Homo sapiens: one gene and its partner. The protein of the gene in region 2 interacts with the protein of the main gene of each other region in a pairwise test. Each region holds a gene or a part of one and is shown on either strand. Other genes may lie near its edges.

What was found.
Region 1: the proteins of TNFRSF21 (region 2) and CLIP3 interact in a two-hybrid assay, tested with the Homo sapiens proteins (one study listed by BioGRID).

The regions. Positions count from the first base shown.
Region 1 is NC_000019.10:36,022,803-36,030,076, forward strand, and holds part of CLIP3 (CAP-Gly domain-containing linker protein 3), read right to left. Parts: intron 4,470-7,274; coding exon 4,330-4,469; intron 4,244-4,329; coding exon 4,150-4,243; intron 3,946-4,149; coding exon 3,784-3,945; intron 3,464-3,783; coding exon 3,345-3,463; intron 1,831-3,344; coding exon 1,594-1,830; intron 1-1,593. UniProt on the Homo sapiens protein: Functions as a cytoplasmic linker protein. Involved in TGN-endosome dynamics. May modulate the cellular compartmentalization of AKT kinase family and promote its cell membrane localization, thereby playing a role in glucose transport in adipocytes.
Region 2 is NC_000006.12:47,299,780-47,307,053, forward strand, and holds part of TNFRSF21 (tumor necrosis factor receptor superfamily member 21 precursor), read right to left. Parts: intron 1-7,274.

The DNA of each region.
Region 1 (7,274 bases), on a different chromosome or scaffold from region 2:
CCCAGCACTTTGGGAGGCTGAGGCGGGCGGATCACGAGGTCAGGAGATCAAGACCATCCTGGCTAACACAGTGACACCCTCTCTCTACTAAAAATACAAATAATTAGCCAGGCATGGTGGTGGGCACCTGTAGTCCCAGCTACTCGGGAGGCTGAGGCAGGAGAATGGCATGAACCCAGGAGGCAGAGCTTGCAGTGAGCTGAGATCGCGCCACCGCACTCCAGCCTAGGCGACAGAGCAAGACTCCATCTCAAAATAATAATAATAATAATCATAATAATAAAAATAAACCCAGGCTTGTTGGCACACACTTGTAATCCCAGCTACGTGGGAGGCTAAGACATGAGAATAGCTTGAATCTGGGAGGTGGAGGTTGCTGTGAGCCAAGATCGTGCCACTGCACTCTGGCCTGGGTGACAGCAAGACCCTGTCTCAAAAACACAAAAACAAAATTCAAACTCCTTCCAGTAGCCTACAGGTCTGCTGTGACCCAGCCTTGCTGACCTCTCCACCTCACCGCCCTTCCCATAACTCCCCTCGTCAACACTGCCCCTTCCTGCCTCTGGGTCTCCATACCTACTGCATCCTCTGCTTCCTTATCTTTGCAAAGGAAGTTCTTTCCTATCTCAGTTTGGACATCACCTCCTCAGAGAAGCCTTCTCAGAACACCCCAGCTAAAACCACTCCAGCATTCAGCCAGGGACAATTTACTAAATCCAAACATGTAATGGTGTTGACAGCCCTTGTTGCTACCAGAAATTACCTTTTTTTTTTTTTTTCAATAGAGGCAGGATCTCACTATGTTGCCCAGGCTGGTCTCTAACAACTCCTGACCTCAAGTGATCCTCCCACCTCGGCCTCCCAAAATGCCGGGATTAGAGGTGTGAACTACCGTGCCCAGCCCAGAAATCATCTCAACCATAGGTTTACTTTCTTGACTGTCTCCCCTTCATTACAAGTGGAGCCCCATGACAGCAGGGCGGGGGCAGACACAGCCCTCCCTCCCTAAGGACAGACTGGGTCCCGTATGGAGCCCAAGGGACACCGGGAAATGAGTGAAATTGGAGTCCCTGGATAAATGAAGATTCTCTCTGCCCTCTCAGCTGTGATACCCGCTCCCCCAAGCTGAGACTCCTTTCTCCCTTTCTTTCCCTGGCTTGCTCCTCCACATCTGCAATTTGGGTACATTCCCCATCACACCCCAATCACTCTGGCCTGGACTTGCCTAGCCAGACTTGTCTCTGAGAGCAGAGGGGCCTGATCGAGGACCACAAGACCCGGGGGGAGCCACAGGTGCACAGAGCTGCGCAGATCACTCTGCTCACCCCTCCCCATGGCAGCCATGACCACTCTCGGCCGTCACTGTCAGATGACGGGTTGTTTCCCACCCTGGATGGAGAGCTCAGCACAGGGTGAGGCTCAAAGGAGACACCCACGGAACAACTGAGATAAAATCAAGTACTGGGTGGATAGTTAGGGCGGCAAGTAGACAAAGGGCAGGGACTGCACTCTGCCCGAGGACGCAGCTCCAAGGGATTAAGGGGCTGAGTCCCACCCCCACCCACCATGCAAACACACATCCCAGCCCCTGACCTTCTGGCCATCCAGCAGCACGCGGTCTCCCAGGCGCAAGCCCAGTGCGCTAAGCATGAGATTGCCTGGGACGTTGTCATAGTTGGGTAGCGTGACCTTGGGGAGGGCGCAAGATAGTGGCACTGCCTCTTCCAGAAGCGTCCGCAGCTCCTTGGCCACCAGTGCCGCCTCTGCCTTGTCCAGGGACATGTCCATAGGATCTGGGACCACCTCCGCCGGCACCTGTCCTTTTCGATTCTGGGGGCCAATGGGAAAAGAAGGCAGGGACTCAGTGGCACAGGTCACACCCCCATGGAGGCCCTGCCCCTAGAGACCACCAGTCTGGGTGATGCAGGGGTAAGACTAGGTCATATCCTGGGCCAACCTGGGAATAAGAAGGGTCAGGGCAAGGCGGGGTAAGGTGGCTCACGCCTGTAATCCCAGTACGTTGTGAGGCCGAGGCAGGCAGATGCTTGAGGTCAGGAGTTCAAGACCAGCCTGGCCAACATGGTGAAACCTCGTCTGTACTAAAAATACAAAAATTAGCCGGGTGTGGTGGCGTGTGCCTGTAATCCCAGCTACTCGGGAGGCTGAGGCAGGAGAATCGCTTGAATCCGGGAAGCAGAGGTTGCAGTGAGCCAAGATCATGCTACTGCACTCCAGCCTGGGTGACAGAGCGAGACTCCGTCTCAAAAAAAAAAAAAAAGAAGGGGCAGGGCAGAAAGGTGCAGACCACATCCCCAGGGAAACCCACCCCTGAGACCCAGGGCTGGGGGTGTGTCAAGTAATTGAGGGTGGGCCTGGGGGTGTAGGCAGTAGGGATGAGGGCCACACTTCAGTGCTGTAGGTCACGCCCTCAGGGAGGCAATCTCTGGAGACCCCAAGCCTGTAATGAGGACATGTGGGAGATGAACATTGAGAATGGGCTCCTGTGGGCTGGGTGCAGTGGCTTATGCTTATAATCCTAGCAATTTGTGAGGCCGAGGTGGGCAGATCACCTGAGGTCAGGAGCTCGAGACCAGCCTGGCCAACATGGTGAAACTCCATCTCTACTAAAAATACAAAAATTAGCCGGGTGTGGTGGCGCATGCCTATAATTCTACCTACTCGGGAGGCTGAGGCAGGAGAATCGTTTGAACCTGGTAGGCAGAGGTTGCAGTGAGCCGAGATTGCACCACTGCACTCCAGCCTGGATGACAGAGCCAGTCTCTGTCTCAAAAAAAAAAAAAAAAAATTAGAGAGAGTGAGAGTGGGCTCCTGTGGTATAGAGTCAGGAGTCAAACTCTGGGCCAGTGGAAAATGGGGAGAGGCAGGGTCTCAGGGGCACAGGCCATGTTACCCCAACATACATGTGCCTGGACGGCTGCAGGGTAATTAGCATTGTGGATGGAGCCTGGTAATGCATAGGTCAGAGGTCAAAGATCATATTGAGGGCTTAGGAGAGGACCAACCCTCTCATTCACAGAAGGCCTAGCCCAACTTTCCTCATGACCTTGAAATGCTGTTATGCACTGCCATGGGATAGGCTGGATGACCCTGGGCAGATCCCTTAATCTCTGCCTCAGTTTCCCCATTGTAAAACAAGGCTTATAATAGACTTCACCTGACATGTAATGAACACTAGGCATATTTCAGCTGTTATTGCATTTGCTGAATGTACAGACGGCATTTGTAGTATTTGGGGAGTCACGGGAAACGCAGAGACCTGCTGGAGGGAAGTGGGGGAGGAAGGGAGCAGGAGGGTAACGGGTTCTGGGCAAGGGTGGCAGTACCCTCAGCGCAGGGTTGGCGCCGTGCTCCAGCAAACATTTGGCGGCGCCCAGGCACAGGCTGGAAGCAGCGATGTGCAGGGCTGAGCCGTGGTTGAAGTCACTGCACGTGGAGTTCACCACTGGAAGTGGGCAAGAGGAGGGGTTCCGGGTGAGCGCCTGTGGGACCCCAGCCCTCCTCCCACCTCGGGGCTCATCTCTTAACTTGCAGGTCCCAGAGCCTCCGACGCAGAGCCCCGCCCCCACCTCGGAGCCCCCCTCTCCCTTGGCAGCCCCGACCCTCCCTAGAGTGGTAGTCCCTGAGCCCCCTCTCCCACGCCTCCAACCTCCCGCTATCTCCTCAGATCACCGTCCTCCTTCCCCTCGCAGCCTGGCCTCACCTGGGTCTCCGCGTCCCTCACCCAGGTCCTTGCCCCCTCCCAGCCAGGGCTCTCCTCCTCACCTCGCGGCCTCGCACCCTTCAGCAGCACACGCACGAGGTCGGGCACATCAAAATAGGCCGCGTAGTGAAGCGCGTTCATGTTGGTCCAGCGGCTGCGCAGCGTCACATCTGCGCCCAGCGCCAGCAGCTGCTGCGAGAGGCGCACGGCTGCCGCGGGGTCCCCTGCGCGATAGGCCGGGTCAGCTTGGAACCCCCATTCCAGAGCATGGGCCCAGTGCACGGGGAGGACCCTGGGCTTCAGGGACTATACTTTGGGATCCGAAGCTTCGGGTTCCAGATGGGGCCTGAGTTCTGGGTGGTTTTCAGCGTGTTGGGTCTGGGGGCCTAGGCTTTGGGGCTTATGACTTGGGGGTAGGGGGCCCTCACCGACTCCGTGGGCCCCAGCTTTGCACGCATAGTGGAGCAGTGTCATGTCGGTCAGCCCGTCACGATCGTTCACATGGCAGCCTCGGCGCAGAATCTGTGAGTACCAGGGGAGCAGGGAGGGTCACCCACACATGTGGGGAACCGCATCCCCTCTCCCCCTGGTTTCCCCAGTGTTCTCACCTCATTGCCGATGACGTCTATCTTGTGCTGGACTTGGGGCACCCACTGGCGCACAATGGCAAACAGCTCGGGGATGGTGGTCTGAGGGTCAAACAGGATCTCCTGGCACGCCGGGTCATTGGGATCGAAGAAGGTGAAAGCTGGGGTGGCAAGAGGTCCAAGGTCACCCCACGCAACTGACCCCCTCCTTCCAGCCTCAGTAGGGGAGCTGTAGGTCTTTGCCTTTTAGAGCCTCTAATGCAGGGTCTCAAGCTGGTGGCACATGGGCCACAGTCAACCCACAGGCATTTTCTGTGTGGCCAGCATGAGGTTTCAAACTCAGGTGGGTTCACATAAAAATCTCGATGCCCAGTGTGTCTTGAAAAGTTGGAAGATCAGGCAATTCCCATATAGCAGCAAACTCCACCCCCTGAAACAAAAGCCTGACAGAGAGTGCAGTACCTTGGAGTCTGCATGTCCAGGGGGACTGCTACTGACCTCACCCACTGTTGCCCTGTGAGAGTATGAGTGAAGTTTGGCTGAATCTCCAGAGCAAAAATAAATAAAGCCAGAAGTCCTGGTTTTTAATAAAACTCTCTCAATTGTTTCAAATACCATGCAGTCCACATCAAATGTATCCATGACTGGGCACAGTGGTTCACATCTGTAATCCCAATGCGTTGGGAGGCTGAGGCAGGAGGATTGCTTGAGCCCATAAGTTCAAGACCAGCCTGGGCAACATAGCAAGACCCCTGTCTTTACAAAAAGTTTTAAAATTAGCCAGGTGTGGTGGTGCGCATTGGTGCTACTCAAGGAGATTGAGACAGGAGGATTGCTTGAGCCCAGGAGTTCAAGGCTGCAGTGAGCCATGATTGTGCCACTACACGCCAGCCTGGGCAACAGAGCAAGACCCTGACTCTGGAAATATAAAAAATAAAAATAGAGGCTGTGCGCGGTGGCTCACGCCTGTAATCCCAGCACTTTTGGAGGCCGGGGCGGGCGGATCACCTCAGGTCAGGAGTTCGAGACCAGCCTGGTCCAACGTGGTGAAACCCTGACTCTACCAAAAATACAAAAATTAGCCAGGCGTGGTGGTGGGCGCCGGTAATCCCAGCTGCTCGGGAGGCTGAGGCAGGAGAATCACTTGAACTCAGGAGGCAAAGGCTGCAGTGAGCTGAGATGGCGCCGCTGCACTCCAGCCTGGGTGACAGAGAGTGAGACTCCATCTCAAAAAAAGTAAATAAATAAATAAAAATGAAAATAAAATAAAATGTATCCATGAGCAGGAATCAACCTGTGCCCAGCCAGGGTGGTGCCTAGAGGCACTTCTGTCTCTTCCCACTCGACTCTAAGGAGTACTGCTCTCTGTGACGTCAGCACCCAGCACAGGGCCCTGGCACGTGGCAGGAACTCAGTGCGTGGTGAATGAACGACTACATGAATGATCAGATTATACACAGCCCAGGGAAGTGCCACATAGAAGGTGTCTCCAGGAATCAGCCGGCATGCTCCTTTTAGAACTGCAGTCACATCATAGCCCTTCTTGGCTTAGAACCCTCCTCCAGCTCCCAACCCATCCAGAGTACAGACCAAAGTCTTCCCCACGGCCCTCAGGGCTCTGCACATCCAGCCCCTCAGTTCTCAGCCCTCTCCCCTCACTTATTCCCCTTCCCTCATTTCCCACACTGGGCTCCCTCTGTCCCTCCCACGTGCCAAGCAAATTCTTGTCTCAGGGTCTTGGCACTTGCTGTTCTTCTCACTCAGGATAGACTTCCCACACATCTTCACAAAGCTTTATAAATCTTTGCTCAAATGTCATCTCCTCAGAGAGGCCTTCCCAAACCACACTGTCTAAATCGGCACCCGCCCTTCTCCATCTCCTACTCTTTTTTTTTTTTTTTTTTTTTTTTTTTTTAGAGATAGGGTCTTGGCTGGGCATGGTGGCTCACGCCTGGAATCCCAGCACTTTGGGAGGCCAAGGCTGGCAGATCATGAGGTCAGCAGTTCGAGACCAGCCTGACCAACATGGTGAAACTCCATCTCTACTAAAAATACAAAAATTAACTGGGCGTGGTGGTGAGTGCCTGTAATCCCAGCTACTCAGGAGGCTGAGGCAGGAGAATCGCTTGAACTCGGAAGGCAGAGGTTGCAGTGGGCCAAGATTGCACCATTGCACTCCAGCCTGGAGTCCGTCTCAAAAAAAAAAAAAAAAATAGGGTCTGTTGGAATGCAATAGTATGATCATAGCTCACTACAGCCTTGAACTCCTGGGTTCAAGTGATCCTCCTGCTTCAGCCTCCCTGGTAGCTAGGACTACAGTATACATCACCATGCCCAGCAATTTTTTTTTTTTTTGTAGTGACAACGTTTTGCTATGTTGCCCAGGCTGGTCTCGAACTCCTGGGCTCAAGTGATCCTCCCACTTTGGCTTCCCAAAGCACTGAAATTACAGGTGTGAGCCACCATGCCCAGCCCTTTATTTATTTATTTATTTTTATCATAGCTCATATCACTACTTGACATGTTTACTCCTCTTTCTCCCTCCTTCATTTCCTCTCTTCTTCCCTCACTAGGATCTAAATGCTATGATTCTATTCTGCCTCATTCACTCCTTTATCCCCAAGGCCAGGCACAGCACATGGCACACAGTAGGTGCTCAGTCAATCTCTGTTGAATTAATGTACAAATTTAACAGATACATGATTTCCTCTTGGAGTCCACCTTAGCCTTCTCCCTGTCCTCGACCACATTTCCAGATTTCTTCACATTCTGGGACAAAACCTCTCCCGCTCTACAAGCAAGACTGCTTGGAGGGCTCAGCCTATACCCTCCGACCTCCCACTGAGTCAGAGGCCCCAGCCACCTCCAGCTGCATTTCCAAAGGAGATTTTCCAGTTTTCTGAGGTACAGCACCCCCCCGACCTCAGGCCCCAGATAACTTCCTTTTACTTTTTTCTTTTTTTGAG
Region 2 (7,274 bases):
TCCAATATTGGCAGGCTTGTGGGCTAGAAAGCACATTTATAGGTGGCTGGTGGCATTCTAAATTAATTCAGTTCTTCTGGACTACAGTCTGGCAAATTCAGTTCTTCTGGACTACAATCTGGCAATGTGCAGCAAAAGCCATAAAACTGTTCATTTATTTCCTTTGACCCAGCAATTCCACTTTGAGGAACACACCTTGGGGAAACAACCAAAAAGGAAAAAGAGCAATTGGTTTATACAGAGACAACTTCATTAGTGCTGCTTGCAGTGGAAGACCAAAGAGACAGCAAGCCAAGCATCCAACAACAATAGAATGGCTCAACACAGTGCCGACTGGAGGGGATAGAGCTATTAAAAAGTGGCAGCCATAAAGGCTTGAACTGACGTGAATCACAGGCACCTCAAAATTACTCAACACGCATCCAAACTTAAGGCCTCTCAGTTTCACCCACTGCTCCCCAAGCCTTCCCTTTCAAAGTAATCAGACCACCATAGACTGCTCAATGTGGGAACCTAGGAATCAACCTTGATCACTGCTTTCAATATCACCTGCTCCTTCCTATCTCGCCATCAGCAAATCTCTCCAAAATTTCTATCTAGTAATCCCCATCTTCATTGTCACTGCTCTAGCACCATCATCTCTGCCCTGAATTACTGTAAAATGTGCTAACTGGCCTCCAGCTTCTATGCTCCCCTTCTCTAATCCATTCTCCACAGAGCTGCCAGTGAGTTTTTATTTTTTTTAATTGCATTCAAGTCATAGTATTACCCTGCTTCCCACTGCACTCTGAGTGATGTCCTGATCCCTTAAAGGATCCTGTATGATATGGCCCCTGCCTGCCTTTTCAAGCTCGATCCGTTGTCCCCATTCACTGAGCAGCAACCACCGTAATCTTTCTATTCTCTGAACATGTAGGCTGTTTCCTCCCTCTGGGCCATCCCACATACTGTTCCTTCCTCCTGGCATACTCTTCCTTCTGTTCTTTAAAAGGCTGGTTCTCATTAAGCATCACCCCTTTTACGACGTCCAAGAAGGAAAGCCCATGAATAGTTTTTCATATCATATACCCAAAGTCTAGCAATGCCTGACATTTAATAGATGCCCCATAAATTTTATTAAACGGATAAAATATAAATATATCTCTGTAAGATAACAGAAAATAGCTGCACTAAGAAAAGCAGAACACAAGCAGGTACATACACATTAGTTTTAACTATACATAAATACTATAAACAAAGGGAATTGAATTGAAATGACACATAAAGAGAATTCTACACCCACTAGGTTCTTCTAGTCTGACAACTTACATAAGTTTAAATTGTTCTTTCTTAATAACTCATCTATCCTTCAGTTGTTGTTCAAAGTACTGAGATGTAATGCTAGCTCCAACTACCCTCTAACTTGACTAGAATGAATGAACAGTTAGTTTAAATCAAGATCCTTCTGAAACTCATTAATCATTTATTCCTTAACTGTTATGTGTCAGGACATTGAGCCAGAAACACAATGATGAAGAGCATATTGTCTTTGAGAAGCTGAAAAACAATATTAGCCCTGAGCTTTTCAAATGAGGAAACACACACAAACCTTGTCTATTTTGTTATTTTTCCTTGACCAGGTCTGCAAGGTTTAAACCCAAGAGGAGAGAGGAGTCATGGACTTCTACACATAAAAGAATAGCAAAGATTGAATCATGATATAGTTAGGATGTATGTCCTCTCCAAATCTCATGCTGACATGTGATCCACAATGTTGGAGGTGGAGTCTTACGGGAGGTGTTTGGGTCATGAGGTGGATCTGTCATGAACGGCTTGGCATTGTCCCATTGGTGATAACTGAGTTCTCTGTTAATTCCTACCAGAGCTGGTTGCTTAAAGAGCCTAGCACTTCCTTCCCTCTCTCTTGCTCCCTCTCTCACCATGTGACACACCAGCCGCCCTTCCGTTCTGCCATGACTAAAAGCTTCCTGAGGCCTTACTAGAAGCCAAACAGATGCTAAATCCATGCTTCTTGTACAGCCTGCAGAACCATGAGTGAAATAAACCTCTTTTCTTTATAAATGACCCAGTCTTGGGTATTCCTTTATAGCATCGCAAAACGGATTAACAAAAATATCCAGCTAAATTATTCTGGGGACCTGTTACCATTTGCCTTGGAATCTCTTTCTTCCTTCCCAACACCCCCACCTCTCCTAATCCTGGGCAAGCTGACCTGGCCGTGTATAGGATGAAATCAAACAATGGTCTTGTCCCAAAGGTTATTTGGGAGACCAGAATTCCAACCTGTTTTCCAGGACAAATGATTAAATAATTTCCTCTCACCCTTTGCCTTTTCCTAGTTTACTCAGTCTCTACAACCTACGAAGCGATGTTTAAAAGCTTACTTAAGCGAGTGCTACCAGTCAGTATGATAAACCACACACAAACACATGACCTCTGACACCCCTCAAATCACGGAGTTAAACCAGTTTCTAAGAGACCTGAAATGAAAAGTGAAAAAAGGAAATACTAACAACAGATGGTACAAGCCCGTGCACTTACCCTATACAAATAACTAGGCTGACAGCAAAGAAAACCCTAAAAGGTCCTCAAGTTCTCAGGATAAGTGAGTTGAAACTACATTGCTAAGCAGAACCCATGTCACACCGTTATTCACTAAACAAATATTTTTCAAAATGACCCAAGTAGCAGGAAAGCAAAGGATCCATTCCCTATTTATAACATTTCAATTTGCAGGAGTATCTTTCCATCTTAGCGATGGCACCCTTGCCCGTCAGAGTCACACCATAGGAAAATGCTTACCAATGACTGCACACCCTTCCCTTTCAATCCACACACAGGTTGCTCTCAGTTTATAACCAGCAGTTTTAGCTAAACTTCCAAGCACCATCGTGGAGCAGAACTGCTCATTAAATTTCTGGAAAGAGAATGTTCAACTCTTGGGTAAAGTCATTCTCTTTACAGAAAACAAAATTCTGGTAAATTAAGGTGACCTCTCTCCTACCAACAACTTGCAGAAAAAGCAGTGTGCACAAAGCCACACTGACCTAGATTTAAACCCTCTCTCCAGCAGTTGCCAACTGCATGACCATAAGATTTCTCAAACTCCATTCCCTTATCTGTAAAATGGGGCTAATGCTACTACCTCAAAGACTTGTCACATGTACTGAGATCATTTGCAGAAGGTATTCAACACAATGTCAAAGATAAGTACTCAATAAATAAGAGGCAGTGATAGCAATATCAATGATTAATATTAACACCCACTTGCTTATTCCTCCCCTCTGGGCTTTCAGAGCTGAAGCCCTATTGAATCCACAGCTGCTCTCATTTGATTCCTGGACTCATGGACTCACTCCTCTCCACTCTCCTAAATCCATTAAGCTCATGTTCCTTTTCCCAAAACAGATAGATTTGCAAGGGCACCAAGCAACAGAGCCACACAGCAGTACTGACAGGAGACGAACAAATAGAAAAGTATATAAAGATTAGATAATGAGCCTTGCTATGACTTAGCTTACTAAGTGCCCCCCTTAGTTTTCTTGTTTTTATTTTTGTGTAGCACAAAGTCTTAGGCATAATTTTTAAATATGAAGCCACAGGGCAATGTTCTGATCCCCACCCACACCCTGCTCAGTCCCACACCTGCCTGAGGTCTCTCTGAGCGCAACTTTCCCACCACTGCACACATCTGTCATCTCCAAAGCCAGGATACTGACAAGAAAATCTTCTGGTGGCCTTTAGCACCTCTCAAGAACAGTGAGATCACTACTGCTCACTGATCTCACTGAGATCACTATTGCTTACTATTGCTTTGAGTCAACAGCCTAAGTATCAGTGAACCCCACCTCTGTATAGCCCTCAGTCCTGCCTGTACTCACTGATATCTGCCAGGTTCCTCCTGGGTTATAACCTCTACCCAAGCTCCTCTCCTCTTGGATTCAGGCTAGAAATGAAGGTGGTAAGAAAGCTGGGTGGCAGCATGCAAGCCAATTTAGGATTCCCATTTTATTTTTTGGTATTTGACAAACACAAACACTGGGGCAAGGCCAGTATTTATTCATGATCTCGCCCCTATCCTAAATAATCAAAGCTCAGCAGCTGTTGCTGCTACAGCCACAAGGCCCAGCCTTCTGCTAATGCTAAATGAGGATCCAACTTTGGGAACCAAATTGATTCCTATTATGGCTCCCATTGTCATTCTGTCAAACAGACATATCTTTGCCTAATGGTCCACACTGAGTCAGCTCCAAGTGATCACTGGACACATGCCCAAAGCTCTGAGATAACCTGGGCTCTTCTTGTCACAGAAGAGAAGCACCTGAGTTTGCCAAGAAGTTGCTGGTGACCTGGCATCACCGGAATTTGCCAGGCCTGCTTGGGGAAAGAAAGCCAACAGAATATTAGTGCTTTCTGGAAAATAAGCACAAGGAAAAGTCACTCAATTCATACCAGCCCCTGAATAGTAATGATCTGATAATGCACCGGATCATTTCGTGTCACCAAAAAAAAACCAAAAAAAAAAAAAAGATGTTTATTTAAGGCAATTAGAGTTTACATGCTTTATGAAGGACCAGCTGAACACAAAATTAATTTGCAAACTGTCTATGCAGCCTCCAAAGAGGCTTCACCTCTCATCTTCGTGGATATAGTTGCCTGCAAAGTTAAAGTGTGATGTCTCCACATTCTGGTCTACAATGAAGAAAGGACAAAGACCACCTGCCAGAGCCAGCCCAGAAGCTCCCACCTATTTGTTCTGACCCAATAATAGCATACCTGGAGAAAAGGACTGTCTTCAAACTGCCCCAGAATATACAGCATTAACTGTGCTTACTATATCCTGCTTGATAGACTTTGTCTACATTTAGCCACACTAAAATATGTCATGCAGGAATTTGGTGGATATATGCCTTTTCAAGCCTCCCTTTTTTCCCTTCCCAACTTAAGGTAGTCCTTAAATCCCATTTACGAGGAATTTTTTTTATTGCTGATTTGATTTACTTGTGTAGTTTATTTACACTAGAGGTGTGTTTGTTTTGTACTGGACTTGGGGAAGATTCAAACATATGCCTTCAGAAACAGTTCAGATGACAGAGCTCAATTCCATTATACACATTTTGACTGTAATGATAACTCATGGGGTCGGTCAGGACTCCTGCATTCCAGCACAGGTTCTGCGCTCCCCATTCCTCTGATTAGAAGTTGCTTTCTCTACTGAGGCTAACGTATGTCATTCTCAGATTTGAAAGTCTTTTTTTTCTCTTATTCTCAGACTAAGAGCCAAAGTTACTTCAGGTATTTTAAAGATTTTAACATCAATCATATTTTGTGTATTAAGGTAAGTATACTACATTCATCCAGTGATTCCACATGAGCGAGTAAAACCCAACCAGCACTGGTGATGGCCATGCTCATTTTATATACCATACGAATTGTACCTTCATGGCAAGATCCAAATCCCAATTCATCCCTGGGTTCCCACTGCCCAGAATAGTGCCTCACTTAGAAAGGGTGCTCGATGCAGTTTCATTTGTAAACATGAAAAAGCAGTCACTTCCCCAGTAGAGTATTTTTTTTTCTCTCAACCAAAAAATACAGGGTGTTAAATCAGTATTTTTTATGCTCCCTTCCAGCTTTCACATTCTAGGATTGTAGAGCTAAGATATATAGGAGAGAGAAAATCTTTTGGATATAATATCAGCTCTAATTTAAAGTTCTGCTCGAATTTGCCACCAAGTCTTGACATGATTCAGAACTTCAGCCCCCACCAGACCACTCCACACCTGCCCAAACAGCCAAAGTGAATTGCCAATGTACGAGGTAATGTACTTTGATAAATGATGGTCAGGAGGTAGCACTAAGCTACATGTCTAGTTTCAGTAACAGAGAAAAACACTATTACTTGGCACTTTCTAGGCAAACGCACAGCTGGACAGGCTATAACAGCAAATAGCCCTCTATCTGGAATTCATAATGCTTGCAAAAGAGTTTTCTAAAACTTCAGACCTCATATCTTTACCAATTATGGCTCCCTTCTCTTCTGAGGGCCTCACTGCCAAAATCCTACCTATGCAGTTAAAGCGAGCTCCCCGAGGGCAAGGGGCATCTCTGACTAAGTAGTGTCACTCTGGGCAAGCCATTCTAGAGCATTCCTTATCACTGGCACAAACCTAAAGCTCTCATGGATCTTGTCTCTGCCTTACAGAGATATGATATAGCAAGGGTAAGTGTCTCAGGCAGAATAGTACAATTGGTAAAGTCAAGATGGTGGAAGGTAAGCTTAGATTCTGAAGACAAAGCACAATCATGCACACTAGACTTACTGGGTGTCGAGCAACAAGAATGTTTTGTCCACCTGAGCCCCAGACTTTTGAACCCAGCTCTTGTCTTTCAGTGTATGTTTTACTTTCTATTATCATGCAGACACTCATCAGAAATAGAAGTGCAAGCAGCAAGAATACTTCCTTCCAAAGGCATTCCTGTAATTCTCATTCACGTTCTGTAACAAACCAAACCACCTTCTTAACTTTTCCCCAGTGAGCCTTCTCTGTTGTTACATTTCATTATCAAGCAATTTGGACTTGTGAAACACGCAGTGTGGCACAGGGCTAAGGGAGGACATGAGCTGAAGAGCCAGGCAGTCCTGGGTTCTGGCCCCAGCAATATCACGTGCAAGCTGTGTGGCCTGGGACAAACCAATGAAGTTCTGGGAGCTTCCATTTTCTCAACTATAAAAAGGAGACAATATCACCTGCTTCACAAAGATGCTATGAATAAATGAGATACTGTATACAAAGCACCTGGCATGTAGCAATTGCTCTCTCTATACATATACAATTGCTATATACATGTGTATATATTATATCATATTGTGTACCTATATATTTGTATTTTTATAAGCTTATAGTAAGCTATTTTTCATGCAGTTAGCCGGTCATGACAAACAAAAAGTCATAACACAAAAATGATGACAATAAATATTATCACACAAAAAGGGAGATATTTGAAAGAAGAGCATTAAAAGACATAATAAATAGAACATTTTACTGGGATTATTACTTTTTAATCTAACTGTAATACGTGGGCAGGCCACTAACTTGCCCACCTCCCCCAGTAGTGTTCTGAGTACCCTGCCACGTGTACCCAGGCTCCAGTACCTGATGTCCGTTATGTTCACATGGCCAAGGATCCCAATGGGATAAATACTTCTTGGAACAGTATCATGAGATCATCATTTTATACATTAACAAAGCCTGTGCTGTGGACTTGGGCAT